Regions from separate parts of the Homo sapiens genome. Here regions 1, 2, 3, 5 and 6 are each reported to be linked to region 4. The links are microRNA targets in miRTarBase. Many come from high-throughput screens and were not tested one by one. Region 4 holds a microRNA gene; each other region holds the end of a gene's coding sequence. Distances are from middle to middle.

Region 1 (5,073 bases), not on the chromosome of region 4:
TGCATTTCTTGGGGTTAATTCACTTGTTTTTGAAGAACAGAAGTGATACACATTAATTTTTTAAAACAATTTTACTCCTTATTCATAAAACAGTACATTTCTATTACATAGGTTTCATCCCCTAGGCATGCACAACCATTTGAACTATTTAAACAGTTTATAACAAAACAAATGAGAAGATAAGGGAAAAAGAGCTCTCCTGGGGACTTACATAGCTGTTTGGTTTTTCAACTTGATTGAAGAAAGTTATTCGGGGGATCTGTCCAATTCACACCTTCTGTTCCCTGATCAAATACTTTAGGGTCAAACATAAGGTTTTATTGATTTTTGCTCAAGCAAAGAATTAACATTTTTGATAAGGAACTGTAATGGCAATTATAAGGTAATATGGTGTATGGTAATATTATGCTGCCAGAGGAAACATTTGACTATGATTAAATTCAAGCCCAGTACTGGGTAGCTCTAGATAATTAAAGATAATTTTATCCATTCAAGTCCCCTCTGTTAAGCTGCACATTGACACATATTTGTTCCCTGTCTTGTAAATAAATATAGAAAGCAAATTAGAGTGAGTCCTGCAGATTTCTGAGAATTTAATTATACCCTTAAATTGCAATACCAATGATATATACGGTTAGATTTCTGTACTGAGTAATTACCTGAATTAACTTCGTTTTACAATGCTTAATTTATTTTGTACTAAGGAAGGCTTTTAACTATTTAAGATAAACCAACCTAATTTTGATTTTTTACTTGCTTCAACGTGTTTCAGTTCATTAATGTTTCAATAATAAGGAATGAATTCTCTTGTCTTGACAAACCAAGCATGGAAATTTCCCCATAAGAGAAAAGAAGAAATTAAAATGATTTCCATATTCAAGTCACAGCACGCTGAAAAGAGAACTTTGAGTTCTTAGGAAAGGCATCTGTTACCTCCAAAGGAGGGCCACTCATTACAGTTTTGTGTAATATTACAGTAAGGTCTGCCAAGAAGGAATTCAAGGAAATTGGGAATGACGACACTGTGATCCCAGGCCACTCTCTTGAGCAGAGGTTTCCTTCCCTTATGTGTTCTGCCCTCGCCAAGCTCTTTCTGAAATCAGAGGCCACTGACATGCATAACAAACCATGCTAAAATCCAAACATGACACCAACAGCAAACAATTACACTGTGATCCCATTGTGGTCCCCAAGATATATCTTGAGATACTTCAGAGAGAAGCTATATTCTTCATAAATCAAAATACAGAGGGTTTTTATGATTCTTGCTTTTTATAAAATGAAATACACTTCTATAGTATTAAAATAAGTGAACAAAAGAACTACAGCACTTACTCCCCTACCCCCAAATGTTTGCTTCTTTGCATTTCACAATTCATATGCATATCTGGACGACAGTTAACCTCCAGTGGCAAAGATAAGAAAATGTGAAAGAAAAATCATACAGATTGTTCCCAGACCTTTCTTGTTTATGGACATTAAAATAACCTCAACACCAATCTATTAAGATGCCATCTGAAAGCACATGGAAGTGGCTTAGAATCTATGCCGCTGAGAAAGTTAGGAAATTCAAAGTTATAACATTAATCAAATCATATCAATGACTTCTCCAAGCATTGGAGTCACAGGGACTTGAATATAATTTGGGGTACTACGCAAGTGGTTGAAGAACTTGTTCTTTTTGACTAACAATACTGACACTGTTTCAGACTTTCAGATGCCAAATTATTAAGATCATTAAGAATGTCAAAACAGGCCGGGTGCGGTGGCTCTCACCTGTAATCCCAGCACTTTGGGAGGCCGAGGCGGGCGGATCACGAGTCAGGAGATCGAGACCACCCTGGCCAACACGGTGAAAACCCGTTTCTGCTAAAAAAAAAAAAAAAAAAAAAAAAATACAAAAAATTAGCCGGGCGTGGTGGCGAGCGTCTGTAGTCCCAGCTACTCAGGAGGCTGAGACAGGAGAATGACGTGAACCCAGGAGGCGGAGCTTGCAGTGAGCCAAGATCGCCCCACTGCACTCCAGCCTGGGCGACAGAGCGAGACTCTGTCTCAAAAAAAAAAAAAAAAAAAAAAAGAATGTCAAAACACATACCATTCCCAACAGTGAGAACTCTTCATATCCTACCTAATAAGCAACAACAACAAAAAACCCCTGGCATCCATTTACCCCTTTGTACTTCCAAATATCCAAAGAATCATGCAACCACTCAAATAACAAGAGAGCCAGGGGTGTTTCAGCCATGTGCAAGAAAAATGCTTAAAGGCAAAATTCCTCAAACACATGTCACAGTGTGGGAACTGAGAGCCATTCCCTCTGTAAATCCTGTTAAAATCCCTTTTACATGAAGGGACGTGAGGGCTGTGAGGAAAACTACATCTATCTACAACCAAAGGTGCTATTTTTTCTCTTCGATCACAGTAATTGTTATATCCCCAACTATAACAAACTCTAAAGCCAAGACTTTTCCTGACAGAGAATCATTCTAAGTACAAGTACTAGCCTTAACCACCAAGCCCAGGTTAGCTAATGAAATAAAAATTTCTCAATACCAGAGTGATACTTCAGAGAAAGATTAGAAGAAAACAGAAATAACAAAAAACCAACAGAACAAACAAATAAAAACTTCTCAATAGAAATGTTCTCTGGTGGCTCCAGCTCAAATATCTCCCCCCTAGTTCTGGAGCAGGCAGTGGCTACTGTTCTAGTACAGCCGTCTTTTTAATTCCAGACTCTTCCAGAGAGCTGCTTCTTGGTCTATCCCCTGGGTTACTTATTACTTGTGCCCTCCCTATATCTAAATCGTTCTAATTGCTTCTGTTTAAGAAGATTCAGTGACACACTGTGGTCCTGTGTTCAATAAAGAGCACACCTAAAATACTGTTTGCTCTAAGAGAGGCGCCTACAGTGGGCCATGGAAATGCACATTCTACCAGGTACTCGGTTTCCACTCTGTGCAGCCCACCCCTATTGTATAAGCAGAGTCAGCTCCACTGAAGTTAGTATTCTGTTGGGCTCCCTCTTCTCCTATAGAATCCCCTGACTGGGTTCCGCTGGGAGCAGGAAAAAAGCCAAGAGGGAAGAGGACAGGATACCAGTAGGAAGGGCTGTTTCAAGTGGGGGTGGTGAGGCTGGGATCATGGGACAGGAACAGGTTTCTAGGCAGGGTTTGGAACATTAAAGTAACAGTATCTACCACCACAGTCAGGCTTGGTGACCAAGATGGAATTTCATGACCCAAAATGGTGCCATGAAATATAGCTGCTGCTTCATGAGTCTTACTGGTCTTAACAAGTGGGGACAGGAGATACGGGAAAGGATAGAACGGGATGGAATAAACCACTAATCCATCTCAAGCATGAACCTACACTATGCCTGTTTCTGTACTCTTGTCATTGTTTTGGGCTTTTCTGGGTGATTTTTCTGCTAACTTCAACACTTTAGGGAATATACTTGGTTTTCCTTATTACTTAGGGGAGGTGCCATTTCAAAGGACCACCCCATGTTGAACAGAAAAAAAAAAAAGATGTATTGAATGAATGGACCTTGAATATTGTTTCTTTCCTCTTTTAGAGTGAAATTCGGTTATTGGAAACTTTTAGCGGGTGTCCATCCAAAATAAGTCATTGCTACAATTCACTATGTGACATTTCATCAAGCCCACTGGAGACAGTGGGTGACATTGTAAAGGGAAGGCTCCCATCTTGAAATTTGAACTGCCTGCGAAGCCTTCCAACTGGGAAACTGGAACCTGGTCACTGAGTTCCTGTTAGGTTATAGTCTGTCCCAAACCAAAATCCTGGAGGTGGGTGCAAGAGCAGGGACTGGGACATGCTTGAGCTACAGGCAACAACGAGCCTCTCTGATGTCTTCTCCTAAGGTTGGGCAGAATCGCCCATCGACTTCAACAATTATAAGGGAAAGTAACACCTTCATGGGTGCCATGGCTGCCATACTGTAGAACCCGGAAGAGAGTGACCCATACACCAAACCCAAGTGTTTTACGAGTTTGAGGGAGTCCGAGGGGATGCATGTGCACATCTGGCCCCAACTGGTGAGCTGGAGGCCATGGCAACCAGGCTGCAGGAAGCACTGGGGAGTGTTCTATTAGTCCAGTGGTTCTCAAACGCGAGCATGTTTCAGAATCACCCAAAGGCAGTTACTCAGCATGGGGCAGGGCCCAATAACCACATTTCTAGCACATTTCCAGACAACGAAGCTGGTCCCAGGACCACGCGCTAAGAACCACTAGCTTGTTCTTTCACTGCCCTCCTACTCAGGCTGAGGAGCAGGGGGATGGATTGTACCCCTGGAGCTGAAAGGCAGCACGGCAGCACTGTCTTTGCACGGTCCATTGTGTGGTCTGCACAGTGATGTGCCAAGAAGGGGCTCATGATCAGTTTCTTCATGCAGTCCTTGCACAGTCTCCTCCCTGACAAGGTGGATGGCTCTTTGTCATTACTAATTCTCTGAAGACAGTCATAAAATACAATGATAAAGAAGCAACGCTGTTAGAACAAGCATATAGCCTCCCGGTTTGAAATGCTTTGAAAACAAACCATAGCCATAACACAGATAACACACTTCCTATTTAAATTAGTCATTCTAATTAATTCCTTTAAAATCCCGGCATCTATATTCGCAGCTCTCTTGTCACAGGTTTGGCCACTATGTCCTCAACTCCAACGGTACAAACCTCTTCGGTGTTAATGGCCTCTTTCGTATTTCTTTCTTTTCTTGGTTGGGCTGTTCTGAATTGTAGATAATCTTTCAGTGTTTGTGGCTAAGCCGGTTTGCTGTGCCTGCCCTGGGTTATTTTTCATAAGATGTCTGGAGGAGAGACTTTCCAAAACATGCAACTCTTCCTTAGACGTGGTTTTTGCCAAATCTTGTTTCAAAAGTAACCCTGGATCTGACAACTCTGAAGCTGGCAAAACCCTGACAGCTTTGCTTTTTTCCACTATTATTTCTCTCGGGACTAATCGATCACTTCCAAGAGAAACTCTCCCGTGGTGGTCGAAGTCTTCCGCAGAGCTGCAGTTCCTGCGTTTCTGTTGGGTTTTGGCCACTCG
Region 2 (5,066 bases), not on the chromosome of region 4:
GATGGGCCACAACCTGGGCCAGAAGCATTCAGTTCAGATATGAGAATGGTGGGTGTAGGGGCAATGGCCAATGGGCCATGGCCGGAAGGAAATTGTTACAGAGTAGTGGGAAGCCTGCAAAGACTGGCTTCTGTCCGTTTTGCCTTGGTTTGCCCATGTGGATATTCTTTGCCAATATTTTCTGCCCAAGAGCTGTGCTTGCTAGAGTTGGAAACTGGATGAAAAGGTGAAGACTTTTTTTCTTCTCAACAGCTCACAAAGAAAGTGAACAACATAGAGACGGGCTGGGCCTTGGGGGCCACCTTTCACCTGTTGCAGTCTCTGGGCATCTCCCATTGAGGCCACGTACTTCCTTGGAGACCTGCATTTGCCAACACCTTTTTAAGGGGAGGAGAGAGCACTTAGTTTCTGAACTAGTCTGGGGACATCCTGGACTTGAGCCTAGAGATTTAGGTTTAATTAATTTTACACATCTAATGTGAACTGCTGCCTAACCACTCAAGAGTACACAGCTGGCACCAGAGCATCACAGAGAGCCCTGTGAGCCAAAAAGTATAGTTTTGGAACTTAACCTTGGAGTGAGAGCCCAGGGACAGGTCCCTGGAAACCAAAGAAAAATCGCATTTCAACCCTTTGAGTGCCTCATTCCACTGAATATTTAAATTTTCCTCTTAAATGGTAAACTGACTTATTGCAATCCCAAGACCCATCAATATCAGTATTTTTTTCCTCCCTATACAGTGCCCTGCCCACCCTTATCTGCACCCACCTCCCCTGAAAAAGAGAGAAAAAAAAAAACCTGGTTTTGCTTTCCATGTATAATTCAACAACGCAAAATGGGACCATGTCAGAATCTGTATGATCCTATTCTGTGTTAGCTCCAATCAGCCAGCTGAGAGCCATCCTAAATATTAATAGGATGAGAGAGTAACTCCTAACTGTGCATAAATTACAGCCTTAAGAAAGAAGGCCACCCGGTCTCTGGGGACATGTTTTGGGAGGGTGTGGCTGCCTCATATAGCCTACCTTTGCTTTAATCAGCATTTTATCAGTCAACTCTGGGATTAATGAACATATCCGACTTTATGGGTATGTGTATATTCAGTGCCAGTACCACCTCCCAGGCTAATGTGTTAACAGTGTTTTCTATGATTCTAAACTTGTTTTCTTTGTATTTCTAAGAAATACAACTAGGCCCTAACTTTTGGTCTGTGGTCAGAGGTCAGTGTCTGTGCTATTCCAGGATCTATTATTTCAGTTTGCCCTTTTATTCTCTCCGTTTGTAACAGTACCTTCCTGTCCTGGTCCCTGATCACTTTAGCTAATATCCTTTGAATTATTTATCTAGTTCAGAGTTTCCAATACCGTTCCTGACAAAACCCCACTTGGATTTGGTTGGCTCTCTCAGCCCACATCAGTACAGTGGACCAACATTTCCAGGGAGAACCATATTTAATGTCCCTCATGCTCTCTTTTTGAATCCAAGTGCTCAGAGCTCTTGACTGTGAATTATTTACCCCAAATTCATTATCTTGCACTTTTTTTTGAGATGGAGTCTTGCTCTGTTGCTCAGGCTAGAGTGGAGTGGCGCAATCTCAGCTCACTGCAACCTCCGCCCCCAGGTTCAAGCGATTCTTGTTCTCAGCCTCCTGAAGAGCTGGGATTACAGGTGCCCACCACCATTCCTGGCTAATTTTTGTATTTGTAGTAGAGATGGGGTTTCACCATGTTGGCCAGGCTGGTTTCCAACTCCTGATCTCAATTGATCCACCCGCTTCCCAAAGTGCTGGGATTACAGGCATGAGACACCGCGCCTGGCCTTATCTTGCACTTTCAACATAATCATCCCTGCTTCTCATCTGCCCTGCAGTGCTCTTGGACCTGGAAGATCTCCCTGTGGTCTGGCCCCTTTGCCTTGGTTGTTAACCTCCAGCTTCTTTGCAGGAGTGTATTTCCCCAAAACTTGTGGCTTTCACAGTAGACTCCGTTTCCATCCTCTCTCTCACAAAGGATGTTAAGTATGCCTGGCCCTCACACAGTCCATGGGAAACCTTATTTTTAACATTACTCCATTGAGTCAATAAATATTTACCATCTGCTGTGTGCAAGTTACTAGGCAAATTTCTGTATCCTTGTCCCTAAAATTCTTGTCTTTAAATTCATTGTGGAATTTCTTTAGACTTCACACTGACTTTTATTACTAAGGTCACCTTTATACCAACTGCCTTCCTCAAAATGCTTATAATGAAATAACAGAATCTTGAGTTGGAAACAGCCCAAAGAAATAATCCAATGTTGTACTCAGTGCAGAATTCCCTAGAATTTCTAACAGGTTGTCATTCAGCTTCTGCTAAGCCATGTTCAAACAGCTTATTCCATTTGGAACTGCACTGATATTAAAAAAAATTCCTTATATTGAGCTGAAATCTACCTATCTTCTAAGTGGTCTTAGTTCTGCTCTAATCTCTCCTTCCAAAATCTTTGGATCTTTTGAAAAAAGTTCCTCCCAAGTTCTTTTATAAGTGACATGACTTTTAGACCCCTTCCCATCTTTGTCAACAAAAGTAGGGTGCCAGACCAGTCACAGAACACTAAATGTCATCCATGTTTCCTTCAGTAGAAACCAGCAGTTTTAAAAGAGGTAAGCTGTGTTCACTAAAGACTGTTCCAGCTTGACAAATGCAGAGATATAAGTCTCTGGTCTTTAATCACTGTGGGGGCCATTTTGTAAAACACACATACTGTCCAGCAGACTCCTTTGGTCATCCCAAATACCTCTGAACTCCAGGGAAGATGCATTCTAACTCCACGAACTTACCTATTTTGTTAACCTTGATTAGACCTTCTGGAGAAGTAACCAATTTGTCCATCTTAGGAGCAATTTGGAATGAGAGTTTTTATTTTTTTCTGTAACGCCCATCCTGCCTGCAGTAGACCCTTTGGGCTTAAGAGGTCCTACAGATTCTAATAGTTTCCTCTTTGTAGATGTGTTAACATATTTAAAATACTTAGGACATGGCCTGGTACGTGACAGATGGTGTTTAACATCATTGTCATATGAAGAACACTCTCTGTGGGCCAATGGAGGTGTGCCTTAAAATTCTTCATCTTGCCTGATTTTGTTTGCATAACTTCTGGAGAGTCTGTGTCCTCCTCATCTAGGCCACCTTTCCATTTTTTGTGAAAGATGACCTTGTCCCTGCAGTCTCCGCCAGGAGTCACACAGCTTTTCACAGCAGCTGCCATCTTTAATTCTTTTTCCTGAGATTCCAGCAAGGTTGTGACATTGTCACTTTTTTGTTCTAGACTCTTTTAAATTTTCTGCATTTGCCTGAAAAGCACCCCTGTAAGAATAGATTTCTCATGGCTCTAAAAATTATTCCCAAGAATACCTTACTTGGTTCAAAAGCAGACTGTTTCTCTTCATTTCATCTCAAATCAGACTTCTGGGCAAGATGTTCTTTAGAGTAAGCAAACCTACAACCTAAAAATCTCTTCAAGAGGCATCTCTGGTCTTGTGACGAGACCTCTTCAAAAACCCACAGTAAAACTCCCCTCCCTCCAGTTGGCCACCAGTCTGCCACCAAACATGAACAAATTCTGCTGCTAATCGGTTTCCCTTGTGATCTGGTTCCTGAGGTCTTCGGATCTGTGCAATGAATTATTTATTGTTTTATTAAACCGACAGTGGTGTCCCAGAGAGGAACCATAAATAAAATGGAAATCTGGTGCTGTGATAAAGTAATAACTAGCATTAATGAGACCTGGTTTTCCTTTCAGAAAGTCCAGTATACCTGTAACAAAGGTTAAAGCAATTTATATTTAATTTGCATTCTGATGTTAACATTTAAACAGCAATTCTAACAAAAATGCATCGAGTCTAATTCTTACCTCTATCAAAAAACAACTGTATAAATTTATGACCAACATTAAAACAAAAACAAAATGTAAATTTTCTCTTTAGAAATGATTAACTGGAAATGAGTGAGACAGCACCTTGTGGGTTTTTTAGTAATAAAAAGCTCTTTTCAACCAAATTGTAAGTCTTCCTTCGAAGTTTTTTCCTTTGGTCTGGCTAATATACGCTCCTCACAGCAAATTATCATTCATTATTTGGGTGCCACAGGCCCATTAAGCAAAGAAGAAAAAGAGAATTTTAATGTAAAGTAAGTTTATTAAATTAAATAAGATCTTGAAAATATGTATGATGGGTCCTGGGCAGGATGTTCTTTTTCATCAACGTAATCTTTCTTTAGGAGAGGAGTACTCATTTGCTTGCAAAGGCCATAATCTGTTCCTGGAGAAAAAATAAAAGTGAATGAAACTCTTAACACAGTAAGGTGAAGAAAATAATTATTGTAGATAATAATCACGTAGGTATTCTTCCCAAGTGTCCTTGTTTTATTTCAGCTAAAAAAAGAAAAATATACATACATATACACACGTTTTAGAGACAGGGTCTCACTCTGTTGACTGGGCTGGAGTGCAGTGGTGTGATCATAGCTCACTGCAGCCTCAAACTCCTAGGCTCAAGCAATCCTCCCTCCCCAGCCTCCTATAAAGTGCTGGGATTACAGGTGTGAGCCACTGCACCCATCAGAAAAAACATATCTTTAAATGGAAGTTCTCAGGGATGAAACTAGTCAAGCAGCAAAAGGAGCTTAAACATCTTCATCATTAGAAATCCCTATTCATTTTTTTTTTTCAAGAGACTGGTCTTAACTCTGTCACCCAGTCTGAGTAACAATGATGTGATCATAGCCCACTGCAGCCTCAAACTCCTAGGCTTAAATTATCCTCTTGCCTCAGTCTCCTGAATAGCTAGGACTACAGGCATGTGCCACCACACTCCCTATTCACTATTTTTAAGCCCTTTTTATACATAGTTATTGCTTAGATGTGGGCCGTAACACCTAAAAGCCTAGCAAGTACTCTTCTGCTTGTAACCCTTGGGAAGGCAAACACATAAAGATAATAATTTTACAGCCAAGAAAATTAATTCAAAGAAATTAAGAGCTGTGGGCCAGCCGCAGTGGCTCACGCCTGTAATCCCAGCACTTTGGGAG
Region 3 (5,073 bases), not on the chromosome of region 4:
TTCAGACAGAGTCTTGCTCTGCTGCCCAGGCTGGATTGTAGTGACACAATCTCAGCACACTGCAAACTCCACCTCCCAGCTTCAAGTGATTCTCCTGCCTTAGCCTCCTGAGTAACTGGGATCACAGACACACGCCACCACATCTGGCTAATTTGTGTATTTTTAGTAGAGATGGGGTTTTGCCATGTTGGCCAGGCTGGTATCGAACTCCCGGCCTCAAGTGATCTGCCCACCCCAGCCTCCCAAAGTGCTGGGATTACAGGTGTGAGCCACTGTGCCTGGCCAATTACGAGAATATTTAATTACTAAACATAGTAGAATACACATTTAAGCAAAACCCTCATTTGGACCACTTAAGAGTGAAGGCTTACAAAAACTAGTAAAAGTCTAAAGGAAATAGGTTTTGCATCTTTCCAATACGTAATAAAATTGCAAAGTCAATGTTTATAATGTATTAAGTAGAAGCTCAAATGCTTTTAATAGGGAAAATTTAATTTGGACATACTAGTAAAGTATCTAAAACATTTATTAAATTATTTTTGTCAAGTATCATCTTTACTCATAGATACTACCAAAGAGCAACCTAGACAGTAAAATTAGTTCCCGTATCTGAGGACTCCAAATTAATAAATTTTAATATATTAATATTAAACAGAGCATGCATTTTTAGAAGGATGCAAATTTCTACTCCTTCATATCCAGAGATTAAATTCAGCAAAGCTAATGGACTTGTTAACACTTACACAGAACATGGAAATAGGTCCTGACTACATACATACTCCACATAACTACTGAAAACTTAAAACCCAGTTGCTTATTTCATGGCAACCTGGTAGAATAATTATGTAATAAACGACAATAAGAAAAAGCCACTTATCATATAGTCTAGTCTTTATTGAAAGACTTACTTCAACTGTTGTTTACAGCTTTGGCTTAAGTTGGCCATTTTAGCCTCTCACTGCCAGCAGACATAAAAATCAAGTGGGAATGGCACGGGGGTTGGGAGTGAAAATACTAGTAGAGAAATTATGAGAACAAAGAATATGGCAGTCAGTCAGAAACACATCACCAAAATAAATCTCAAAATAATTATGAAATAAAAAACATTTCCTTGCATGCCCAAAAAGTCTCTGCTGATGTTTTTGATGAACGGGGTGGGGAGCAACGATTCTTAGGCTTAAGTTGGATCAAGATAGCATTGGGTCATGTTATAAAATCATCTGTTAGCTCAACAGCCATACTTTTAATTAATTCATTTATTTTTTGAGATGGAGTCTCGCTCTGTCGCCCAGGCTGGAGTGCAGTGGCGCATTTTCAGCTCACTGCAACCTCCACCTCCCAGGTTCAATTCTCCTGCCTCAGCCTCCCAAGTCACTGGGACTACCAGCGCCCACCAGCACGCCCAGCTAATTTTTTTGTTATTTTTAGTAGAGATGGGGTTTCACCATGTTGGCTGGGCTGGTCTCAAACTCCTGACCTTAGGTGATCCACTACCCGCCTCAGCTTCCCAAAGTGCTGGGATTACAGGTGTGAACCACCATGCCCGGCAACAGTTGCACTTTTTTTTTTTTTGAGACGGAGTCTTGCTCTATTTCCCAGGGTGGAGTGCAATAGCACAATCTTGGCTCAGGGCAACCTCCGCCTCCTGGGTTCAAGAGATTCTCCTGCCTCAGCCTCCTGAGTAGTTGAGACTACAGGCACGGGCCACCACGCTTAATTTTGTATTTTTAGTGGAGACAGGGTTTCATCATGTTGGTCAGGCTGAGCCACTGCGCCCGGCCCAGTTGTAGTTTTTAAATGGTACATTTCATTTGGATAAGTAGCTTTGTATTTTAAAAACCACTTAATGGCCAGGTGCAGTGGCTCACGCCTGTAATCCCAGCACCTTGGGAGGCCGAGGTGGGTGGATCACGAGGTCAGGAGATTGAGACCATCCTGGCCAACATGGTGAAACCCTGTCTCTACTAAAAATACAAAAATTTACTAGACATGGTGGCATGCATCTGTAGTCCAGCTACTCGGGAGGCTGAGGCAGGAGAATAGCTTGAACCCAGGAGGCGGAGGTTGCGGTGAGCCGAGATTGCACCACTGCACTCCAGCCTGGCGACAGGGCAAGACTCCGTCTCAAAAAAAAAAAAAAAAAAAAGCCAGACACCGTGGCTCACGCTTGTAGTCCCAGCACTTTGGGAGACTGAGGCGGGCGGATCACGAGGTGAGGAGATCGAGACCATCCTGGCCAACATGGTGAAACCCCCATCTCTACTAAAAACACAAAAAAATTAGCTGGGCATGGTGGCACGTGACTGTAATCCCAGCTACTCAGGAGGCTGAGGCAGGAGAATCGCTTGAATCTGGGAAGCAGAGGTTGCGGTGAGCCAAGTTCTCATCACTACATGTACTCCAGCCTGGCGACAGAGCAAGACTCCATCTAAAAAAAAAAAAAAAAAAAAACCACTTAATATGAAATAACTTCCATTAACTGATCATGAAATTTTGCCCTCTTTCAGATTAAGATGAAGGACACTTCAGTCACATGTTTACTGTGGCAATATAACTAGTCTGGATAATTTTATTAAATCATAGAATATACAGTCAGGAAACACTACAGCTATATTTAGCTGTTAGTTATCTCAATAAGCTACTTAATTTACTGGCAGACCAAAACAGGCATACTAAGCATTTTTATCAATTAAAAAAAGTCTTCAGTTGTTCAAGTTTCACATATACTCATAAAATTTTTAACTCGGGGGCACAGTTAACATAATTTATTGAGTGTTCTCCCTATAAAATATAAATTAACTTTTCCAAAAACATTCCTCAAAGATACTATAAACAAAAGAAATAAGGGTATATTTTATAACAGAAGAGTGTAATAGATGACCATTATGGTAAAACTAAGGTGCCATAAAAAATTTGGCCCAGCTATGAATTTCAGACCCTATGAATTTTTATGTTGAATACATTTGGCTATATTGCTAAGTGGGAAAAGGAGGAAAGTAATACCAAAATTATTGTGACCACCAATTTATAAAATCATTATTTTAAAGCTAATCGTAAAACTTCAAATGTTTAGAAAACAGTAATTTGTGGGTACTAATCGCATCTTACTATGTAACTGTAAAAGGCTATTTTCTCTTTGGTGCCCAGGCCAGCATTTTGAATACATTGCCAAAACATTTGCACTCCCTAGCTCTGACAATTCAAATACATAGGATTTTATCTATTTTACATTCCTGTTTGATAGAAATTTGAGGCAAATTTTACCCACACAGCCTGAAAAATACCTTGAAAGCAAACCTCGGTCTTCTGCATCTTCCAATTGATTCCTTTACAAACTCTGCACACATACAACTTAAGCCTCTGCTCAGGCTTATTATACCATGCACACTGCCCACAAGGAAAAAAATTAATTGAAAATAAAAGCCACAACTCTGTGTACTATTTAAACTGAATATCCAATTATAAATTGGTACATTGAAGTGTCTAAATAAGATGTTTTTAGCAATCTTGTTAAAAAAATTCTTGGGCAAAATATATCTTAATTTTTAAAAACACCCCAAGATTTTTAAAAAACACTTGTACTATACAACTTATAGTAACCTTGAAATTGGTTTACAAGGTTTTAATCAAGGTATTTACATACCAAGTAATGTAAAGCAAAAAAAAAAAAAAAAAAAAACAAAAACAAAAAACTAATTCCCAATGACATTTTAGAACATACTAATGCATCAAAGATTGTATGAAATTAAAATTAAGGCTTTTTCTGCACAATTTGTGTAATTTTAATTTTACATAGTAGCCAACCTTGGAAATGTCAGTCTTAACATTCTGATCAATCCACTGCATTCAATGCAGCGGAGTGTGTTAAGTGTTACTTCAAATAATTACATTGCTGCTACTTCTATGTTGAAGCATGCTTTTTAAACACTGTAGTTATTGAATATTTACAATATGTATCATTTAAACTTCATGTAAAAGCACAAGTATGACTGTCTGACTTCAATACAAACACCATACTTGGATTTCCCCCCAAAATGAAATGTAAAATACTACAATTTTAATAATCGACACTTTTGGAAGTTTTAAAAATATGTCTTAACGTGGACCACCAACATTTGCTCAAGTAACTCAAACAATGCTGTTCCTTTTTTAGGGTGCAAAACTTCAGTCTGGCTTCAGTTTCTTTAGGCATAGAGAAAGAAAATATTTCCTCCAAAGCGACTCCAAAATCACGCATTTCTTCTGAATATCACACTTTTTCTCTGCTGACTTCAAATGTGGTCCACCTCAGGGAAGGGGAGGGGAGTATCAGGATTCAGGATGAACTTATATGTGATTCCCAGGTTTTCACGATCCTCCCTTTTTTGCTCTTTTAAAAACACAGTGAGTTAAAATACTGAACAGCAAGATAAAAATGGAATAGTATCTAAGAATCAAAATGTATTAGCCATTTTTCCTATTATATCAAAATTTGTAGTCAGAATTGTCTTTATTGACTTTATTTTAGTTTTTGTACATAAAGAAAAATCATGTTCATATCCATCATGAACAAAAACTTAAAAAGGCAGAACTAGAAGACACGTGTCCTTCACCAAAGCAAATCTGTGCTAAAGGTTCCAAACATTTCAATTTTTAAAATAAATATTTTCATTTTCCGATGTCTACTTTCATGTCTTCAGAGTGTCACAGGAAATCGAAGCCTATCATGAATTACAATTTTTTTTTAGAGTCCCGGCTCACTGTGTTTGGTAACTTGCCATACCATATCCGGCTTGGTTAGGAGGAGGTATTACAGGGGGAGGAGCTTGTCCTTGGGGAGGCTGAGCACCAAATCCACCCATCCAAGCAGCAGAAGGTGATTGACTTGGAAGAAAAAGAAAAAATCTTCAGCAAACACAAGAAAAAAAAAATCACATATGTATTTACACAAAAATCAAGCAGAGCCTAATCACAGAATAGAAAACCAGAAATCAACACACCTACAACAAATAGAAAGATCAAAGAAATAAATGATATATGTGTAGAATACATATTCCAGTATTAGTCTTTGATATTTTTAAGATAACCACAACT
Region 4 (5,073 bases):
GCCAGAGGGCACCCACCCACTTCCAGCCAGTGGTACCACCAGGAAATGCAAGATCAGAGCATCCAGGTCCAGGGGACCAAGACAGGCCAATATTTGGATTTATCTATGAAATTGTCCCAATTATACAAAGTTGGGCCATCACTGTTAGGAGTCAAAGAAAGTAGAGCCTCTTGCCAGATCCAATTTGGGGGCCATTATTTGCAATCTCTGCCTGACACAGAACTCTGACTCAGCCACTCTCCCTGCTTGAAGCCTTCCATGGCTCCCATCACCTTCAGGATAAAGGCCAGACACCTTTGCAGACTCCTAAGTATCTTATGGTCACTGAACCACTCCCTGCCGCCACCTCCAGCCTGAGAGCCGGGACCTTGTCCCTGGTGTGTGCTCACCACTGAGCCTTAGTGTGAGCTCCAAATTTCCTGCTCAGCCAGTGAGTGCATGGATGGTCGAGATCAGGTAGTGGCCTGCCTCCCCTACCTCAACTCAAACCATGCCCTGCCCTCACTCTCTTGCCCTGTCGCCCCCAAACTCCACACTCCAGCCACACAGGATCCTGCCATGCCCCAGAGCACAAGTTTTTGGCTTGGCAACATTGTATGTGCTATTCCCTCTCCCAACATATATATTCTTCTCCTGCCTCTTCCCCTCTGCCTGGCCAACTCCTCTGCTTAGATGTCACCTCCTCCAGGAAGGCTTCCTGACTCCTCCAGTTCATTCTGTGCTCCCCTGTGCCCTTTCCAGTAGCAGAGGTAGCACTGAAATCAATATTACCCACAGCTGTAGGGTGCACTTCCAGTCTGCGAAGCTCTTTCCTGTTCATTAACATGTTTAATCCTTGCAATGACTCTGCAAATTAAGGATAATCACTCCCTGTACAGGTGAAGAAATGGAAGCTCAGAGAGGTGAAGTGGCTCACTCATAGCCACACAGCAAGTAAGGGAGTAGAGTCCGTGCATGACCCCTGGGTTCACAGCCCCATCCCCAGGCAGACAGCAGGTGAGCAGGTGAACGTCCCCTAGCCACCACAGCCTACACCATCCCCAGGGACTTACGGCACACTGCCTGTGAAGTTGATGCCACAGAGGTGCTCTGAGCTGGTGACAGTGTCCCCAAATAGGGGCCCATCAGCTGGCACAAACTGGATGATGTTGGGGGGCAGGCCAGCCTCCCGAAGGATGCGGTAGACAGCATAGCTGGCCAGCATGGCAGTGTCACTGGGCTTCCATAGGACCACGTTGCCCTGCCCGGGAGGTGTTTCAGTGATGCATGAGGATGGCGCCACCAGCCCCCAACCCCCACCCCACCCTACCCTACAGCATGGTTGTCCCTCACCTGGAACCACCAGACTCTGTGCCAACCAGGACATCCCCTACCCGACCCCACTCCTCCAAGGCGTCTGGCCCTATCTCCAAAAGTCCCTGCCAAGGAGGCCACGGCACAGCCCAATCTGCCCCACGCTCTGGCCAAGGCTCCCTTTCCCCAGAAGCCTGCACCAACCGGTCCTGCCATCACCTAGGCAGGTCTGTTCTTACTGCTAGAGTCACTGAGTGCTCACCGGGCGCGGCGGGGCAAGTACACACGGGCTCTCTCAGCACATGTCCTGGGTCAGGCATGTGCAGCAGCCAGGCACGTGGGCGCCTGGCCATGCACCGTGTTTGTCTGTGCACAGATGCATGAGGACGTCCCCATCCATGTCCCTAGTACACACTCCGGCATCAGCATCCAGTGCCCCTGTCTGGGGCTCGGGGTTCCCGACAACTATGTGGACCTCTCCCACCCAGGCTGTCTGGGAGCTGGGCTGCACCTCCCCCACAGGCCTGGGACTTCATCCAGTAATAGCCAACCTCACTCCGATAATGGCAGAGGAGTGACTTGAATACCATCAACCCCGAGAGAGACTACATCCAAATCTTTCTCTGCTCCATCATTTATTTACTAGTCACTCAGTCTTGCCAAGTAAGTCACGGCTGTGTGTCTCAGTTTTGTCATCTGGCAAAGAGGCAGAGTCACAACTCCCTCTCGAAGCTGCTGAGAGGATGAAATGAGATCATCTCCATGCCGTGCTTGACAGCAGCAGGCACGTGGTGAGCACTGAAGGTCAGCGGTAATGATCATCAACAGAGCCACCAACACTCAGCCAGCTCCGGGCCAGCCCTGCCTGCTGCTGGATGTGTCTCATTTGAGCCTCACAACCCAGTCATGGAGGCTTTCCTATTATTTCCACTTTGCAGATGAGGAAACTGTGCCTCAGAGAAGTTCAGGGATTGCCAGGGTCTCCCAGGCAGAGAGGCACGACGCTGGGATTCAAACTGGGTCTCTGGTCCCAAAGCCTACCCACAGCCCCAAGCTGCCTCCACCTTCTGTGCCTCTCCCCATGACTAGGCTGAGACCCAAGGGGCTCAGGGTGGCCTCTGTCTGTCTGTTGGGACCAGGAGGACAACCAGCTGCCGCTGTCCCACCTGTGCCCACATCTCACCATCAGGGCCGGTGCCCCCGCCAGGTTGCCGCCGATTGCAGTGAAGTTAAAGGGCGAGATGGCCGCCACGAAGCCCTGGGGAAGGAGGCAGCGGTGAGATCAGGCCCATGGCATTGGGCTGCCCCGCCTGCTCGCCCACTGCCTCCTGCAGGTACCTCCAGACCCCGGTACACCGTGCTGTTGGTGCTCGGGGGCACGCTGATGGGCTGCTGCCCCTCCAGCTCCACCGCATACTTGGCATTGAACCGGAAGAAGTCGATGAGTTCCGCTGCAGCGTCAATCTCCGCTTGGATCACGGTCTTACCCTGCAAGGCAGAGGGCCGGGGGTCAGGAGCAGCCAACAGCCTCCTGTCCATCCTCTTCTCACATCTGACGCTGTGCCCAAAGCGAGCACTGAGCCGGGCCCCAGGAGGGACCAGGAAACATTTGGAGGGCTCACCAGGTCCCATCCCAGGGGCTGAGGGGGAAAGGATTCTCAAGCCCCTGAGCTAGCACCTCCTGTAGCCGGCCCTCTGGGCTGGACGGGGATCAGAAGAATTTTAGTGATCCTCTGTAGCAGGCCAGGTACTTGCCATGCACTGTCTTCATTTCATAGCAACTCTGAATGGTGGTGCATGGCAAAGGATCTATGGTCAAGCCTCAGACTAAATTCAGGATCAGAGCCTTCCAGACAGAAGGGCAGATTAGCATGAGCTGGAGATTGGTCACTGGAAAACCAGGAGAGAGACTCGGTGTGTGGGAGGTGGATGGCTCCTTCCCCAGGAATGATGTTCGGCCTTGCTGGTTAGTTTGGGCCAAAAACCAAGAGGCGAGTGACTGTGATTCCCTTAAACCGTCAATTCTTAATAACAGCAAATGTGAGCTGCAGGGAAAAGAACTGTGGACAGCCAAGAACGGGGCTTTTCCAGATTGACGTGGCCTCCTCTTGGCACCCAAGGTCACTGGCAGGTGCACGACCTATTAGAGACACACAGCCCATGAAGCTGAGCTAAGATGTGTACCTTGCTTCCTAGAAGTTCCTGAGTCTTAGGCCAAATACAGAGAAAGCCTAAACTGATCCTAGACTGTCTTCCCAGCAACGTGCGGCTCACCAGGAACACGCAGAGCTGACGCCCACCCCAGAGGGCTGCTGAGCCAATCTAAGAAGGCATTTAGCAGGCTGAGGGGCTGTCATACCAGCTCTGTGCAGCAGAGGGGGCGCTCACCATGGGGACCGAGGAGCAGGCAGTGGCAAATGCCTGATCCAGAAAGCAGCCTGGGTTCTGGCTCCTGCAATTTACCCTTCAGGAACCCAGGTTAGTTGGCAGCGTAGGGCTCAGGTCCTGGAGGTGGTGAAATAACCCTTTCTCCCTCGACTCCTGTCCCCCGCACACTCTGCCTGCTAGAGCCACTCCTCACTCAACTTGCATTTAGCAGGGTGAGGAGCTGTCATGCCAGCTCTGTGCAGAGAAAACCATTGATCAGGGGCTTGCTATGCCTCCTGAAAGGTATCATGCAAAGCCCAGAAAAAGACCGAGAATGTCAAGACATGTTTACTATGTCCAAAAAGCTTGTAAAGGGGCAGTACCTAGGAACTCAATACACTCCAGTGCAATCTGAGCTGTAACTGATGCAGGAACAACATGCTCTGGGGAAACAGAGGCAGGAATAGTCCTTTCGGCTGGAGAAGGCTCAGGAAGTCTCACGGAGGGGGTGACATCTGGGCTGGACCAGGAGGTAAGAGTTCACTGAGCACGGAAGAGACAGCAGGCATTCCAGGCAGGAGGACACGTGGGCAGAGGCAGAGAGGATGCCTGCCATGGCCGGGGAGTCCTGCTAAGTGCCAAATGGCTACACTATGGGCAGGACAGCTTGGCAGGGAAATGCAGAGCAGTGGGCGAGCTGGACAGAGGTGGGCAGAAGGGCCCTGGGTATGGGGCTCAGGTCTTGGGACTTGCCTCTCAGTGGTGGAGAGGTCTGGGTGGGTCATAAGCCAGGAGTAACATCCTGGAGGTGTTGGAAAGACCACTCTGAGGGCGGCGAGGGGCTGACCAAGCTAGGAGGCAGGGAGACAGTGCAGGCCACCACCAGTCCAGGCAAAGCATGACAAAGGCCTAGGAGCGAGGACAGAGGGATGGAGGAGAGGGGACATTTCCGAGGCAGGACACATGGGCTCTGCACAATCTGTCTCGCCTAATAATCTGTGATCATCCATCCCAGCTCCTAGGCCTTGTCCCTTGAGGACATCTCTGGGTCCCCAAAAGGGCTTAGGACCCAGAAGCGCTTCAGCTGATGTCTGCTGCCATGGGTAGGGCACACCTGACTCCCACCCCACCCCGCCCCACCCACCCGGGCCCACCAGCACCTCACCTGTCCCACCATGGTCTTGGCGAGGATCTCAGCCCTGCGCGGCCCACTCAGCATGTCTGCCGCCTTCAGGAAGATCTGGGCCCGGTCTGCAATAGGCTTCAGGTCCCACTCTTTCCGGGCAGCCAGGGCAGCCTCAATGGCTTTGTTGAGCAGGCTCTAAAGGGAGAGGGAGAGGTTGGGGACTGCCACCTGCAGCGGGAAAGGCCCTGGGGAGTGAGCGAGGGAGGAGAGACCTGGGAGGCCACTCT
Region 5 (5,073 bases), 210 Mb from region 4:
CCAAAGGGTATCTTCTTAAGAAAACAAACACAATACCCTTTCACACCTAAATAAAGCAGTAACAATTCCTTACTATCCACAGAGCTCACTTTTTCCCAAAGGACTCATGATCAACAATGTTTTAAAGGTTTAGCCTTCAGGCGCCCTTTCCTGCCGTAACCGTCCAGCAGGTTGGACGCACACAGGGATGGCTGCTCCCCTCTGTATGCCATCTTCCTCCTTTCTTCCTCCTTCTATCCACCCATACCAGATGCCCAACCTTCGGGGAAGCCTGCCTGGCACCTGCTCCCAAGGCTCTGCACTGGGAAAGCACACCAGACCAGTCTGTAAGCGGCTTCCAGATGTGGGTTCAGGAGCATGTCGATAGCCTTTTAGCTCCCACCCCAAATGCCCGCCCGTCATACATTCCCAGTAGACCCAGTACTCCACATTTCCTGATTCATTCTTTTGTTTCCCATTAGAAAGTCAAAGCCCTTGGGAAAAGTTGTGCTCTGATGGTAGCAGTCATTTACACCTTAGTATAAACAATGCCTCCTGTGTGCATTCTGGGCTAGGGGCACCTCCTGGAGAAATCCTGAAGTAAGCAGGTGTCTAACCATCTCTCCTTTGCTTCTTCCTCACAGGCTACAAGGAGCAGGGCATCCCACAGCAGCTGTGAGCCCACGGGAGCCGCTGGGGAGATCCAGGGGGGCCCTGTGAGGGCTGCACCAGGCAGCTTTGGGCACAAGGACCTTTACATGTTCTTTTCTGCCATTTTCTGGACTGGGGGTGGAAAGGGGGTATTTTTAAAAATATTATTTATTTTGAAAACGCATCTGCTTTTCTCAGCAGGTTGTGAGGGCTGCCAGCCCCTCCTGCTCTGGAAAGCACTGTGGGCGCAGGCACCAGAGCATCAGAGAGTGGGGTGGAGATGAGAACGCCCACAGAGAGGCTGGGATGCTCCGGCAGGCTCCAACTGGCCTTGCTGTACCCACTGCCCACCGCAAAGGCACGCCACGTCTGCTGGGCCGGGCCACACCGGGCCCTGTCTGGGTGAGCAGGGGCTCACCAAGGGGACAGGACTGTGGTAGACCCGTCCTGTGGGACCCCACCTGCCTCAAAATCTGGTGCCCCGAGTGTTTACTGTGTGGTCTCCTGGGGGCAGCACCAGGGTGTGGGTGAGGATGGCCAGGCTCCACCCTAGCGTGGAAAGGCCCACTGTGCCCACAGCTGGCCTGAGGCCTCGGGGAGAAGACCAGTCCCACAGGCGTCTCCTGGGCCTGCCTCCCTGACCGCACCCCCCGCCTCCTCGCAGCTGAAATCTGAGGGCTGGGTGTGTCGTGACCTGTGTTTTCCTGGGAAGGAGAGGAGTAGCTCCTTCCCTGGGGTGAAACTGCCAGATGTTTATACACAAAGTTATTAGACTGAAGCAGGAGTGGGCAGACTAGCAGGCTTTCACCCAATACTTAACAGCATTTCTGGCCCACATTCCTTTTTCTGAAGTCATTGGGGCCAGATGTGTCTCCGAATTGAGAAATTTTAGATTTGAGAAAGACAATGCGATCCATTTATCGTACACTTTCTAACTTCCCGGCAGAGTGTGGAACATCTCGCCTACCATCAGGCACGTGAATATTTCTGCAGAGAAACATGTGACTAGTCCCATTAACTGGGAGCTATACAAACTGTAAATAGCCTCACCTCAGTTCAGTCTAATTTTGCCACTAAGTAACTTAGGGAAAAACTTACCATTTGAGAGCTTTTAGGGTTTCAGAATTGCAAGAACAATTGTATGGGGTTGTGGACCTTGATCTGAAAATCCTGCTTGCAAACAGATGTGTTAGAGGGTGAAATTGTCGGCATTACACAAGGACTCCTTCAGTTGCCAAAAGACCATGGGCCTCTTTAAGGAGCCCCTCTGTAAGTGATTGGGACAGGGCTAGATCCCTAATGGGGGCTAGGGGTGGGGAGAATCTAGCAGAAGTTGTCCAGGATACTGTGGATCAAGTATCAATCTGAAATTAAGAGAAATTAGATACTAAGAGGATGGACATTTACATGTCTGTTTCCTTTCCTTTCATTTTCATTCTAACATAGGAAATGCTAACAGATGGGGCTGGCCCAAAGTCAAGCTTCTGACTCCACTTGACACAGTGCCATTGGGCATGTCCCTCTCTGAAGGGCTTGTTTGTCTATCAGAGACTGTCAGAACTCCATGAGGGCAGGAGAAGGGATTTTGCAGGATGAAAGTGCTTGGGAAGTAGTGGCCACCGTTCTGGGGGTTTCAGCCCACCTACCCCATCCACCGGGCTTTCTAATCACAGTCCTGCCTGAGAAGCGGGCCCTGCTGCCCACCCCTTATCATGGATCCCTTAGCTACTGTCCGTCTTCCATTGCTGCCTGGGGCTGGGCTGCCGTTTTTGAACACCTGGCAGTGTCTTTGTCGCGTCCTGTCCTCTCTTCTTACAGACCCCAACCCAGGCCTTTGCCTTCTTCTCTCCTGTTTGGAAGCCTCTGTATCTTCAAGGTGTGGGAACAGATTTGGTTTTCTCTAAAAAGCTAGAACCTTCTGCTGTGTGCAGCAGGCATCCTCCAGGCTGGTGCTGGCTGCTCTCGAGGAAGCTGCGTCAGAGTGGAGCTGCCCCTCTACTCAGATAAAATAGCTTCAGCTGCAGGAAGCCGCCCCCTCCCATGCCCACCAGCCCACAGCCCTTCACCCCACACAGCCCCCAGAGTTTGCCCGACACCCCCTGAGTGATGACAGGTCTCAGGAGGGGGCCGCCCCCACAAATGGGAGGCGGAAGCTTATTTTCCCCGCTTGGGCTGGGGGCGGCTGCTGAGGGGGTGAAGAAGAGATAGCAATTTATGTCGCATGTTTAGTGACACAATCCAGATGCAGGTGGGACTTTCTTGAGTGGCAGGTGTCACCCTGGGTCCCGTGTGGGATGGTTTAATACAGGGGTTTGTGTGTTTGTGTGTGTGGAGGGCCACTGCGCCCCCAGATCCTCCTCTCCCCCGAGGGCTGCGTCTCTAAACCTGGGAAAACATCAGCCTCAGGAGGAGGCCCCTTTCCGGGTAACTGATGTGTGGGAGAAGCCAAGAGGCCCCTGCCTGTCTCCTGAATGAGGCTGTGAGGGTTGCCATGTGGGCGGGACCGGTTCAAAATAGCGCCCCCGCCCCTCTAAATTAGACCGTGGTCTCAGCATGATCATCTTCAGTAGATAAGGGACAGTGGCTGATTTACTCCAAATAGTTCCAGCTGGCCACTCAGACCAGGGCCAGAGTTAACTTCTCAAACACCAGCCAGCTGAAAATTAGGGTTCTCGTGCAGGCAAGTGCATGGTTGACACACAGCCCTTTGGTGACAAAGCTGGGCTTTGCCTGCATAGTGCAGACAAGGCTGTTGGTTCAGAGGCTGCAGGGCACATTCCAGGTTGGGGCCTTTTGTCGGTCGGAATTCAATAGGACATTCCCTGGCTGTGGGTGTTTAGGGCAGGAATTACAGGCTTGCAGAGAAAGTCAGAGGCAATGAGATGCTCCCAGTACCAAACTGTGACACTGGGATCAGGGTGGTCATTCCCTTGGGTCAGAGTGGGACCCTAGAGCCAGAGTGAGCTGTGGGTGGCCTGGGTGTGTCCTGTGGACGGCGGAGACTGTTGATTTGGATGTTGAGCTCTGAGTCAGTTTCAGAACCAAGGATCTCAGGCTGAGAAGGCCAGGTCCCCATGGGAGCGGCAGGAGTCTGATGGCTCTGCTGCCAGAGCCTACCCCAGCCTGCCACGCCGCTGACCTTCCCATGGTAAGGAAGGGGCAGGCAGCATGGTTCCCACCCTCAGCTGCCCCAGACCCACACATCCAGCCCCAAGAGCAGCCTCACCCAGGCACAGTGCAGGGCATTTTAGCTCCTGGGAGGGGAGATGCCTTTGTGAGTTTCAGATGTCAGAGGAGAAGCTCCGAGAGAGTAAGTCATGTGCCCCCAAACACTCAGCTCCTAAGTGGCAGGACAGGCAAGTGGCCAGGTTGGGCCGCCCCCACAGCCTGTGCCGTCCACACACTCACTACAGCACTCCCAGAAGAAGGAGCAGAATCGCATGCAGCCCAGAGCAGGTCCTGTGGAGGGGTCCTCACCCCTCAGGAGTAATAGGGTGATTATGTCACATGTTTAGTGATACAATCCCACCTGTGTCTGGATTGTGTCACTAAACATGCAACATAAATTACCATCTCTTCTCCATCCCCTCAGCAGCCGCCCCCACCCCAAGCTGGGAAAATAAGCTTCTCCCTCCCATATGTGGGGGCGGCCCCCTCCTGAGACCTGTCATCACTTAGGGGGAGTTGGGCAAAACCTCCTAGGAAGGTCCTGGACGCCTCCACCCTGCCCCACAAGGCTCCGTACTCCCACCTGCCTGGGCAGCCCTCACACCCATGCTCCCTCCTTTAGGCAGGCCCAGAAAGGTGCCCCTTCCTGAGGGTGTTGGGGGATGGCGGCAGAGAGACAGCTGGTATTAGGAGCTTCCCCATCCTAATGTGCAGGACCAAGTTGCCCGCTCTGCCAGCCAGGGGCTCCAGCCATGCTGGCACAGGCATCTCAGAGGTGTGAGATGAACTCCGCCTCATGCAGGATGCCCAGGGCTCGGAAGCAGTAAGGAGGATGCTACAGAAAGGAACTGCAGAAAGAAAAAAAGCCACATGGTTAACTTTTCCCCTGGAGGGCAAAGGGGTCCGGCTCTCAAAAAGAAAAGCCAGGCACAGATCCCAACACCAAGTGTAAGGCAGCACAAAGTGGGTCTGAAACCCCAGGACCGGGTCAAAGGCCTTCCGAAGGCCCGAGGTTCTTGAGGAGGGGAAGCTGATAGGGCCCTGGTCTTTCTGCACCAGCGTGGCTCTTTAAAATACAAAACACCCACAAAGCCAAAAACCCTGAAACATGTTCTTTAGCTAACCCCTTCCCTGCCCAGATGCCTGCAATTCTGAGAATTCACTTCAGTTTTGCCAGATCCAACCCCTAGGCTTGAGGGTGGAGAGCCAGGCCTCCTCAGGGTCCCTTCTAGGCTCCCAGGCCCACCTTAGGCTTTAATTGCATTGGCTGTTTCT
Region 6 (5,066 bases), not on the chromosome of region 4:
TGAAGCTCTTTTCCCAGGTTTATTCCTGACAAGATCAAGAATAAGCTTTTCCTATGGAGAAGCTTATGAGAGGTGAACCTAACAATTGATATTGCTGGGTAATCAGGGGAGGAGTCCTGGTTTGGCATTGTTGTAGCTCTGGCCCCTTCCTTGGTTCTCAATATGTTGAGTGTCATGGCATGATTCTGCTAGCTTGGAGAAGTGAATGGATGGGCCAGTCATTTTCTCAGCTGCAGGTCGCCTGTAACTTAGTGTGGAGAACACCAGAAACAAAGAATCTGTTTTGTCTGGTGTGGTTCAGTGTTTTCAGAGGGTGAGTTCCAGCTTGTTTATTTTGAAGCTAATCTTCAAGATAAGGACCACAAAATGCTGATAACCCTGCGTGGCACTTGTCAGGACTTTTAGATCCGCTGAGGAAAGGAAAATCTGTACGACTTAGGAAACAGGCCCTTTCAAGGCTTCTCGGTTTTTTCCATTGTGCTGTTTCATTTTTCTGTCTCTGCTGACTGCCCCATGTATCAGCTCCTCTCCAAAAAAAACGGAATTCAAGGATTTGGAGATTGAAGTGCTGAGTTGAGCAATACAGATGTACAAAAAACTTTTTTAAAAAGTCCAATCTCACTAGCTTTGCATTTACCTCTGTGGTGTGTTTGCCCCGGACAGCTTGTTCTAAATCCATAGTAACCATCTTTTAAAGAATTTTTTTTTCTCAAACATTTTGCTTGGTTAGGCCTCTGACTCTTCCCTTGTTGTTATGGTTAGGAGACTGAGGATTTATGCTTGCAATACAGTAGATTCTTTCCCTTCTTCTATTTTCTTATTTGGTTAGCTAGTTAATTAAACTTCAACATAATTACATAATTCACTGTGCTCATTCTGTGAAATAATTTAGCACCTTGTTTTCCAGAGCTGTCAGAAAGCAGAAGCAAAGAAAAAGTAATAAGATGAAAATGGAGACCACGAAAGGACAATCCATGAATCATACATCTGCTACAAGGAGAAAGAAAAGGAGGGAAAGAGCCCATCAATATCTTGGCTCTTAAATGTCCAGTGACTGGAGAATAAGAAAGATTTATGGTCCAACCTTTGATGCCATTTTCTGAAAGTGCCACACTGGACTTAAATTCAGCTGCTTCCAGAGGTGTGCACCTTTCTGAGCTAGATAACAGGCAGGTGGCATTTGCTGGTTTACAGTCCCTTATCTGCCTCTCTGGAGACATGGGGAGTTGTTCCATCTTCAGCCAGTTTACTAGTTCTTTCAGCATTCATTTTTCCTCACTTTAAGTCTCTCCCAGTCACATTGTTCTATTTTTATGTTTTCATTTTTTTTGAGATGGAGTCTTGCTCTGTCTCCCAGGCTAGAGTGCAATGGCACAACCTCAGCTCACTGCAACCTCTGCCTCCCGGGTTCAAGCAATTCTCCTGCCTTAGCCTCCTGAGTAGCTGGAATTATAGGCACATGCCACCACGACTGGCTAATTTTTGTATTTTTAGTAGAGACGGGGTTTCACCATGTTGGCCAGGCTGGTCTCGAACTCCTGGCCTCAAGTGATTTGCCTGCCTTGGCCTCCCAAAGTGCTGGGATTACAGGCATGAGCCACCTCACCCAGCTCCGGTCACATTATTCTAGCCTTTTTATCCAAAAAATGGGCAGACCATTCTTTTGCAGAAGATGTCAGAAGAAAATGAAAGTGAAAACCTATGCAGTTTGTTTACCGTGAACATAAAAGTATGTTAATTTAAATAGGAAAATATTTTATGTTAAATATGAAACAATAGTTTAAACCCCACTTGAAAAGTATAGCGTACAATTATTTTTAGACTGAATTTGAAGATGATGGAAAGGGTTTTTACAAAGGCACTGTTTAGATATACAGATTATAATTATAATTACATTATTATTAAATATTTATTCTTCAAGTACTTTTTGCAGTTGTCCTCTGACGGTCTAGAATCACTTAAATGCTTGTTGAATGAGTGAGATGTTTAGAACTACGACTTGCTCTGTCATTCCAGTGTCGTTTAACCTATGCAGTAAGATTCTGTCTTTGTAAAAGTAGTTCGTAGCAGAAGCCAGGATAGTTTGGTAATTAAACGCCCAAACTAAACTCCTCATTCCTACCCTTAATATTTCCTGGCTGTATGATCTTGGCCAGGTCACTCTCTAAAAGCCCCGGTTTCTTCATTATTATCATTATTATAATGGGGAGAATAACAGCTATACCTGAGGTTTGTTTTGTGATTAAATTAAATGAGACCCAAGTGCTTGGCTCTCAGTTCTCCTCTGTCATTGGTGTGTTAGGTTAACAATGAAGATTGTTACTGGGTCTAATGGTAATTACCTTTTGGCCTGATAACAAAGCATTGAAGGCAGTAATTTGAACTCCCAGAACAAACAGTTCATCTCCCCGTTTCTGTGCTAGTTATTGTCTCCTTAAGACTGAATTGTTTTGAATGACTTATATTTGCATAATGACTTTTCTCTTGTTTCCAAACAACTGCTGTAGAGCAGATTTGAAGGCATCTTTGTTTGGGGTTAGGCAGAGCCCTGTAAGTAAGGGTGGAGGAACTGCACTCTATCTGGTATTTAAATTCCAGGTAAGTTAGGACTGATGCCTGGTGTAGAATGCTCAAGTGTGGCCCAGATCAGTGTGGCAGTGGTGTACATCAGTTGATGTCAAAAGATGAGTTATACCCCTGGACTTCATAAGCATCAGAAAGCTCTTCTCCCTTTTGTTACATGGAGGGCTATGATAGGAGGGGCACATTTGGAGGTGACTGGGTGAGATATGAAGTTTGTAAAACCGTTGTGAGAGTTCCCCTCTCTGATTCAAGCAAGGATAGGGACATTGCCTGACTTTATGGTGTTCACCATTCCATGATAAAATCTATTGAAATCTCCTCTGAAACTAAGACACCTGAGGGACTATGACTACTGAAAAATTGAGTTCTGAAGGCCAACAGTTATTCTCATCACTATATTGCCTTAATGTTAAGATACCATCAATTATAAAATACATCATTGATTTTATCATAGCTTTTCAGGGGGAGAAGAGAAATAATACTTCATTAATTAATTTTTAGATCATCTGATTTCAGAAATACTGAAATGCAAAAAAAAAAAAAATCTTAGAATTGAGGAAATAGTTATAATCAGGAATAATGTACTTATTTATTTTGAGACAGAGTCTTGCTTTGTTGGACAGGCTGGAATGCAGTGGTGGGATCTCTGCTCACCGCAACCTCTGCCTCCTGGGTTCAAGTGATTCTTGTGCCTCAGCCTCCCTGGTAGCTGGGATTATGGGTGTGTGCCACCACACCCGGCTAATTTTTATATTTTTGTAGAGACTGGGTTTCGCCATGTTGGCCAGGCGAGTCTCAAACTCCTCATCTCAGGTGATCTGCCCGCCTCAGCTTCCCAAAGTGCTGGGATTACAGACGTGAGCCACCACACCCAGCCAGGAATAATGTACTTTAAAACTTTATTACTGTCTTAGAAAGTTAAAAATAGGAAATTTGGTGATTTTACACTTATATTCAATTAATACTAATTTTAAGGACTTAATCTCTATTCCTTTTTCAGAGAATAAACTAATTGGTAGCCTGTAAAAATGTGTCTCTGGGAGGTAGAATGTGAAGCGGGATGAGGTCATTTGTTCTTAATAGAAATCTGAACATCTTAACATTAAGATACCTTCTCAAAATAGCAATAGAAGAAAATCCCTAAAATTTGACAGATAACATTTTCTAAGCTTTTTAAAAGGACATTTTTAATAAATACAGCTAAATTTCATTCTTCTTATATTATGAAATTTAATGAGAAACAAAGTCTTTTTGTAGGCTGGATTTCATGTTTTTTCCTAATTAGTCCAGTACCTAGACTAGTTTATCACTCCATATGCCCCATTCTTTTCATCCGATACTGTTCTTTCTGCTTGGAATATGTCCCTCCATGTGGCCACTCCGTTCTCTTTTGGGAATCTTCCACGAGTCCCTGATACTGAAACCTTCTTTGGCCCCTTGGTGTTTGATACCACATTTAAGGCCTTTCACATATTATTCTGTGATTATTTTTACTGATTTTATTTCCCTCAAAGATTTAGGTCTCTTAATGTCAGCACCCATTTCATCTGCTCTTGTGTATCTTGTGCCTTTTTGGTGCTCAATAAAAATTTGATGTAAGCATGGAATTTTCTAGAGGCTTTGAAGTGGTAGGCATGCCTGAAATACGGACTGGACCCACTCTATTATGTTTCTTCTAGGGACTGAAAAGGGAAACAGATTTGTATTAGGAGGCACTTAGAGTCAATATGAGGACCACCCTAACTGAAGTTTTAAATGTGGGGATGTGCTGCGTGAAGATTAGTAGCCTTGTAGCAGGATGAGCCGTGGACAAAACCCCACAGACACCAAGATAGTGAAGGAAGTAGCTTTTAATCAGTTGGAAGCATCGACAGTCTAGTGTCTTAAAATCCGAGTTTGTTGAGTGCACAATTTCTGTCCCTTTTAAGGGCTCACAACACTAAAGATTTTACATGACAGGGCCGTGATCGATTGAGCAATCTAGGGGGTATGTGACAGGGGCTGCATGCACCGGTAATCAGAGTGAAACAACAGAACGAGAAGTTTCACAATGTCCTTCCATACAATGTCTGGAATCTACGGATAACATCGGTTGCTAGGTCATGGGTTGAATTTTAACTATCAGGCTAAGGTCAGGCAGGCCCAGGCCTGGTTTTGGGTCTGGTGCCTGGCACCCGGCTGCCTGCCTTTGGTTTTGCTTCCTTGTTTCTTAAAACAGGTACTGAGCATAAAACAATATAGAACAATACGGGGGGGGATCTCTTTCTCTCTTCTCTCAGCTTTATCTGCAAGACCCCTTCAAAGTAATCTGCAAAATACTAGGCATCTGGGAGAAGTTTGACTAATCTTGAAATATAAAATCACAACCTACAAAGGGTCCTGGTCAGCTGCCACTGCCTTCACAATGTCCCTGTTGGTCTCTCCACTGGAGTAGTACATCTGTTGCCAGAGAAATAAAAATGTCAGTTTGTGTGTTGTTTTTA

What was found. The annotated mature microRNA hsa-miR-4695-5p reads CAGGAGGCAGUGGGCGAGCAGG and lies in region 4 at 2,603-2,624, opposite strand. An mRNA with a match to its seed (bases 2 to 7 or 8) in the 3' UTR can be bound and repressed. Matches are read on the target gene's strand: a 7mer-m8 pairs with bases 2 to 8, a 7mer-A1 pairs with bases 2 to 7 and ends in A, and an 8mer does both.
Region 1: the mRNA of SLX4IP is a reported target of hsa-miR-4695-5p. Seed matches in the 3' UTR shown: 7mer-m8 at 1,980-1,986 and 7mer-m8 at 1,948-1,954.
Region 2: the mRNA of ENTPD5 is a reported target of hsa-miR-4695-5p. Seed matches in the 3' UTR shown: 7mer-m8 at 1,645-1,651.
Region 3: miRTarBase lists TIAL1 as a target of hsa-miR-4695-5p. The part of its 3' UTR that is shown has no 7-base or 8-base seed match.
Region 5: the mRNA of STUM is a reported target of hsa-miR-4695-5p. Seed matches in the 3' UTR shown: 7mer-m8 at 1,283-1,289, 7mer-A1 at 4,325-4,331 and 7mer-m8 at 5,009-5,015.
Region 6: miRTarBase lists ZCCHC4 as a target of hsa-miR-4695-5p. Seed matches in the 3' UTR shown: 7mer-m8 at 1,431-1,437.

What each region holds. Positions count from the first base shown.
Region 1 is chr20:10,623,014-10,628,086 of GRCh38, reverse strand. SLX4IP (SLX4 interacting protein) reads right to left here. Exons shown (of 8, transcript NM_001009608.3): 8 at 57-5,073. The coding sequence ends at 4,708. Among named protein-coding and RNA genes, the nearest start is that of MIR6870, 24 kb to the left of the region's middle.
Region 2 is chr14:73,962,201-73,967,266 of GRCh38, reverse strand. ENTPD5 (ectonucleoside triphosphate diphosphohydrolase 5 (inactive)) reads left to right here. Exons shown (of 16, transcript NM_001249.5): 16 at 253-4,037. The coding sequence ends at 339. COQ6 (coenzyme Q6, monooxygenase) reads right to left here. Exons shown (of 12, transcript NM_182476.3): 12 at 3,597-4,297. The coding sequence ends at 4,268. Among named protein-coding and RNA genes, the nearest start is that of COQ6, 14 kb to the right of the region's middle.
Region 3 is chr10:119,570,929-119,576,001 of GRCh38, forward strand. It overlaps TIAL1 (TIA1 cytotoxic granule associated RNA binding protein like 1), which reads right to left. Exons shown (of 12, transcript NM_003252.4): 12 at 2,537-4,863. The coding sequence ends at 4,737. Among named protein-coding and RNA genes, the nearest start is that of TIAL1, 23 kb to the right of the region's middle.
Region 4 is chr1:18,880,648-18,885,720 of GRCh38, forward strand. It overlaps MIR4695 (microRNA 4695), which reads right to left and starts at 2,628; the gene lies at 2,555-2,628. It overlaps ALDH4A1 (aldehyde dehydrogenase 4 family member A1), which reads right to left. Exons shown (of 15, transcript NM_003748.4): 5 at 4,826-4,981; 6 at 2,632-2,781; 7 at 2,477-2,551; 8 at 1,053-1,240. RefSeq lists a silencer at 3,482-3,713.
Region 5 is chr1:226,601,383-226,606,455 of GRCh38, forward strand. STUM (stum, mechanosensory transduction mediator homolog) reads left to right here. Exons shown (of 4, transcript NM_001003665.4): 4 at 624-5,073. The coding sequence ends at 658. Among named protein-coding and RNA genes, the nearest start is that of STUM, 55 kb to the left of the region's middle. RefSeq lists enhancers at 584-1,120, 1,121-1,656, 2,866-3,545, 3,546-4,225.
Region 6 is chr4:25,368,122-25,373,187 of GRCh38, forward strand. ZCCHC4 (zinc finger CCHC-type containing 4) reads left to right here. Exons shown (of 13, transcript NM_024936.3): 13 at 908-2,262. The coding sequence ends at 1,043. Among named protein-coding and RNA genes, the nearest start is that of ANAPC4, 6.6 kb to the right of the region's middle.